Regions from separate parts of the Homo sapiens genome. Here region 1 is linked to region 2. Evidence: fine-mapped expression QTL. A gene starts in region 2. The other region holds a variant in brackets. All regions are shown on one strand. Distances are from middle to middle.

The links. PIP is the estimated chance that this variant, and not a neighbour inherited with it, causes the effect.
Region 1: its variant is fine-mapped to the expression of SETD6 in blood mononuclear cells (TOPMed, PIP above 0.99). The same link has a PIP of 0.9 or more in fibroblasts.

Annotation. Positions count from the first base shown.
Region 1 is chr16:58,566,935-58,569,954 of GRCh38, forward strand. All of the region lies in intron 16 of CNOT1 (CCR4-NOT transcription complex subunit 1), which reads right to left. Among named protein-coding and RNA genes, the nearest start is that of SNORA50A, 8.5 kb to the left of the region's middle. The variant T/C (reference allele first, on the strand shown) is at 1,387.
Region 2 is chr16:58,513,821-58,516,536 of GRCh38, forward strand. SETD6 (SET domain containing 6, protein lysine methyltransferase) reads left to right here and starts at 1,697. Exons shown (of 8, transcript NM_001160305.4): 1 at 1,697-1,744; 2 at 1,971-2,277; 3 at 2,382-2,523; 4 at 2,658-2,716. The coding sequence starts at 1,718. It also overlaps a transcript of NDRG4 not described here. RefSeq lists enhancers at 1,372-1,541, 2,582-2,716 and a silencer at 1,662-2,321.

The sequences.
Region 1 (3,020 bases), 53 kb after region 2:
ATCATTGGTTTCTACACTACTAGGTATTAGAGGCACGTTTCTCTCTAATTATAACAGCCAAAAAGACCATCAGGCCAAGCATGGTGGCATGCGTCTATAGGACCACCTACTCACAAGGCTCAGGCAGGAAGACTAAGCCAGGAGTTCAAGGTTGCATTGAGCTATGATTGTGCCTGTGAACATGCACTGTACTTCAGACTGTACAACAACACAGTAAGACCTCATAAGAAAAAAAGAAAGAAAGAAAAAAAAAGGCTGAGCATAGGTGGCTTATGCCTATAACCCCAGCGCTTTAGGATGCAGAGAGGACTGCTTGAGCCCACGAGTGAGCCATGATCACATTACTACACTCTAGTCTGGGTAATAGAGTGAGACTATTTAAACAACAACAAAAAGAAATAATGCTGGCCGGGCGTGGTGGCTCATACCTGTAATCCCAGCGCTTTCGGAAGCCAAGGCAGGAGGAGTGCCTCAGCTCAGGGGTTTGAGACCATCCTGGGCAACATGGTGAAGCCCCATTTCCACAGAAAATTAAAAATAAAAATAAATTTAAAAAATAGGCATGCATGGTAGCATATACCTGTAATCCCAGGTAATTGGAGGCAAGACATCATCTCAAAAAAAAAAAAAAAAACCTTCTCATAAAGCAAAACGACAGGGTATGGGCTGACTTCCTCTCCTTCATAAAAGCAACTAGAAAAGTGTCTGAATCAACTTTTTCAGAACTTTGGAAGTTAACCAAAGGCTTATAACAAGTGGGAAATTTTTATTCAAGAGACTATCAAGTTTTCTAGCACATTAATTTGCCCTATTATTCCCATCTCCAGCTCCACAGCCAGCTTAGAAGCTGACAGCCCTCAATCACAATGAAAACCAGAAGCCTGAGAGGTGAATCAAAACAGGGTTAAAACATCTTCAAAGCCTCCTTCTCAGTGAATTGTCATTATTTCATCTGTATAGGGAGTCTGTGTGAGAACACAATGACAAGGTTGGATTTATTTGACCTGAAAACTGACCCAAACAAAAACCTTTTCTGCATGAGGTGTTTACAAAAAACATTTGAAAGTAACTGTTTTAAACTTATTGCCTATCTGAGGTGGAAGACTACTACAGTTGGAGCAAACTACATACAGGCTAACTAAAAATCTGTAAAGAAGGCCGGGCACGGTGGCTCACGCCTGTAATCTCAGTACTTTGGGAGGCGGGCGAATCACCTGAGGTCGGGAGTTTGAGACCAGCCTGCCCAACATGAGAAACCCTGTCTCTACTAAAGAAAATACAAAATTAGCTGGGCGTAATGGTGCATGCCTGTAATCCTAGCTACTCGGGAGGCTGAGGCATTAGAATCACTTGAACCCAGGAGGTGGAGGTTGCAGTGAGCCGAGA[T/C]TGTGCCACTGCACTCCAGGCTGGGCAACAAGAGCGAAACTCCATCTCAAGAAAAAAAAAAAAATCTGTAAAGAAAAACTTTGAGCCGGGTGCAGTGGCTCAAGCCTGTAATCTCAGCACTTTGGGAGGCCAAGGCAGGCAGATCACGAGGTCAAGAGATCGAGACCATCCTGGCCAACATGGTGAAACCCTGTCTCTACTAAAAATACAAAAATTAGCCAGGCGTGGTGGCATGCTCCTGTAATCCCAGCTACTCAGCTGAGGCAGGAGAATCGCTTGAACCCCGGAGGTGGAGGTTGTAGTGAGCCGAGATCGTGCCACTGCACTCCATCCTGGGCGACAGAGCGAGACTCCGTCTCGATTTTAAAAAAAAGAGAGAAAAAAAAAAAACTTTGGAAGTAAAGACTAAGGTGGCTGTGAATTGCCTGGCTTAGTGCTGAATTGATTCCCAAGATTAGGTTTAAGAAAATCTCGTCAATCTTAGCTGACAACAAGGCTAACCAAGCAGGAACTTCAGTAGCCAACTATTATAAAGAACAGAATTAGTTCAGGAAAGTCACTAAACAAAAAAAGGGCAATAACGAACAATGTGCTCTGCTGAAGAAGGAAGATCTGATTCCAGGAAATGCCATATTATTTAAAGTTGTCTGTTTTCAACAAAAAAATTACAAGACTTGTAAAGAAACAAAAGGGTGTCCCATGCAAAGGGCTGGAAAGCTATGTAGAAATGATCCTTGAGGAAACACTGCTGTTGGACTTACTAGACAAGGAATTCAAATCAGTTACCAAACACATTTATTTTCATTTTATTTTGGTTTTTGAGACAGAGTCTTACTCTGCTGCCCAGGTTGGAGTGCAGTGGCACAAACTCGGCTCAGTGTACCTTCCATCTCCTGGGTTCAAGCAATTCTCTTGCCTCAGCCTCCCAAGTAGCTGGGACTATAGTCGCCCTTCACTATGCCTGGCTAATTTTTGCATTTTTAGTGGATACGGAGTTTTGCCATGTTGGCCAGCTGGTCTCAAACTCCTGATCTCAAGTGATCCACCCACCTTGGCCTCCCAAAGTGCTGCTGGGATTATAGGCTGAAGCCATGACACCCAGCCACTACAGAACACGTTTAAAAGAAAATATATCAAAAGAACTGAAGGAAAACATAGGAATACTATCTCAAAAAGCATGTCCATAGAAATTAGCAAAAAAAAAAACCAAAAAACAGAAATTCGTTTTTTCCCATCAGATACTACACTCTACAACATACCAAACAGAAAAAGTACAGTAACTGTAATAAAGTTTCACTAACCACATGTCCCACCACACATTCAAGCAGACAAAATAGTTCATTTGAAGATAGATCAATTAAAATTATCCAGCCTGAGAAAATGAAAAAAAAGGGGGTGGGGGGATGGGGGCTGAGAACTCAAGGACATGTGGAGCACTACTGAGTGTGCCACCACAAACATAATGGGAGTACAAGGAGAGAAGAAAAAGGTACGGAAAGATTTGTAGAAATAATGACTGAAAACCCGATAAATTTTATTAAAAACATTAATCTAGACACCCAAGAAATTCAATAAATTCTAAGTAGAATAAACTCAAAGAGATTCATACCTAGAATAACATAATCAAGCTGATG
Region 2 (2,716 bases):
GGTGGCGCGTGCCTGTAATACCAGCTACTCGGGAGGCTGAGGCAGGAGAATCGCTTGAACCTAGGAGGCAGAGGTGGTAGTGAGTGGAGATCGTGCCACTGCACTCCAGCCTGGATGACAGAGCAAGACTCTGCCTCAAAATAAAACAAAAAAACAAAATACAGCTCTCCAGAAAAAAATGCCTTAAAGACAAAACAAAACACCCCTGCCCTCCAAATCTCTTGCCTGAGTCACTACATTCCTTCAAAGATAAATGACCTACTCTTTGCCTTCTCCTAAACATACGATCATGTCTGACAGGGTTAATGATTATACTCTGCAATCTATAACCAGATATACTTATCCCTAAACTTTGATATGATTTTACACATACTAAATCTTCACCTATGTATAACCTAAACTAAAATACCGTGTTAGAGGAGCCTCACAAGATTACTCCTGGGCTACAGGCCTCAGTCTATAGTCCTCAATAAGGCTTCTAAATAAAACTAATTTTAATTATTTAAAAGCTTAATATTTTTTCTTTAGTCAACATACCAATCCTTACATTAATTCTACAGAGTAGGTATTATCTTAGTTTCGCAGGTGAGGAGACTAAGGTTCAGGAAAAAGGATTTGCCTGAGTAACAGACCAGGCCGCGCGCGGTGGCTCACGCCTGTAATCCTAGCACTCTGGGAGGCCGAGGCGGGGGGATTGCCTGAGCTCAGGAGTTCGAGACCAGCCTGGGCAACGCGGTGAAACCCCGACTCTACTAAAAATAAACACAAAAAATTAGCTGGGCATGGCAGCGTACGCCTGTAGTCCCAGCTACTTGGGAGGCTGAGGCAGGGGAATTGCTTGAACCCGGGAGGTGGAGGTTGCAGTGAGCCGAGATCGCACCACTGCACTCCAGCCTGGGCGAGACTCCCGTCTCCCCAACGCGCCAAAAAAAAAAAAAAAAAAAAGGAAAAAAAAAAAAAACTGAGTGTTGAGCTGCGGCGTTGCTTGGCTTCAAAACCCATTCCTGTAACCTCTATATTCACAGCCTCATTTTCTTACATTTAACAGCATGCTACTTCCCCAGGTTTAACCACCATTTGTTTTATTCATTTATTTACCCAATAGGTAGATATTGAGTCCCTACTATGTCAGCTAATAAAACCCACCACGTGCTATGCAGCAGATTAAAAACGAGGATGTACTGGCAAATAAGGGCAGAGAGGATCTATTCTAGATCCAGGAGCCCTCTAGGCCACGCCACTCTGAAACACACACGAAAACTGCTCTGAACGAATACCACCAGTAAAAGGGTTCCATGGCCATCGGCAACAAGGGGTCGAGATCAGGAGGTCGCTCGCCGCCCAGTTGCGTCGCTCACCACCGGCCGGCCACCAGACCCTCGGCTTCCGATCCAGAAACCGTATTTTGTTCTTGCACCCAGACCGCAAGAAGCCTCAGCCCTCGGGGACAGACCGAAGGCCAGGGCTGTACCTGGCTCAGAACCAGGCGCCAAGCGGCACGGGACTCTCCTTCTGCACTCGCAGCGCGTGAGTGCAATTGGAGATCCTGGACTCAAGATGTTTTCATGAGGAACGATTCCAGCCCGCGGTAACTCCGGCCAGTCTGCAGCGTGGACGACAAAACAGGCACCACGTGGTTCCGGCGCCGGGGCGGGGCCAGAGACGCCGGAAGTGACCGCGCGGTGCGCCGGCCCGCGAGGAAACGCGCTCTTAGACCATGGCGACCCAGGCGAAGCGTCCACGGGTGAGTGGCGGGCGCGGGGTCCAGCCTTTTCCTCCGCGCCTCACCCCTTCTCCGTTCGCAGAACCGTCCGCCTGCGCCCCCTCCGCTCCCTCCCGCGGGTCCCGCGCCCCTCTCCGCTCGTCCCCTCCTCCACCCAAAGCCCGTTCTGCGCTCGCGCCGCGGTCTCCTGCAGTTCCCAGCGGCCTCTCTGGGGGTCGGACCTGGTCACTGCGCGCACTTATCTCAGGTGGCGGGGCCCGTGGACGGCGGCGACCTGGATCCTGTGGCCTGCTTCCTGAGCTGGTGCCGGCGGGTGGGGCTGGAGCTGAGTCCCAAGGTGAGCGAGCGAGCCGGCGGGCGGAGGACCCGCGGCGGGGCGCGGGCTGCCCTGACCAGCCCTCCTGCTCAGGTGGCGGTCAGCCGGCAGGGCACGGTGGCCGGCTACGGCATGGTGGCCCGGGAGAGCGTGCAGGCCGGAGAGCTGTTGTTCGTGGTGCCGCGGGCCGCGCTCCTGTCGCAGCACACCTGCTCCATCGGCGGCCTGCTGGAGCGAGGTGGGCACGGCGGCGGGCTAGGGCCCTGGGGCGGGGCGGGGCGGGGCGGGGCGGGCCCGGCCCGCGAGGCCGCGCCGGGGCGCTCACACCTGTGTCTTCCTCAGAGCGAGTTGCGCTGCAGAGCCAGTCGGGCTGGGTGCCACTGCTGCTGGCGCTGCTCCACGAGCTGCAGGCCCCGGCCTCACGCTGGAGGCCCTACTTTGCGCTCTGGCCCGAGCTGGGCCGCTTGGAGCACCCGATGTTCTGGTGAGAGCCTTGGGAGGGGTTGGGGAGCGCCTGCACCGTAGCCTGCTGCAAGAAGTTTCCCCGCCCCTGCACCAGTCCTACCCAGTAAAGTGTGTGAAGGAATGAAGGGAACCTGGGTGTGGGTGTCCCTGCAGGCCAGAGGAGGAGCGCCGGTGCCTGCTCCAGGGCACAGGCGTACCTGAGGCCGTGGAGA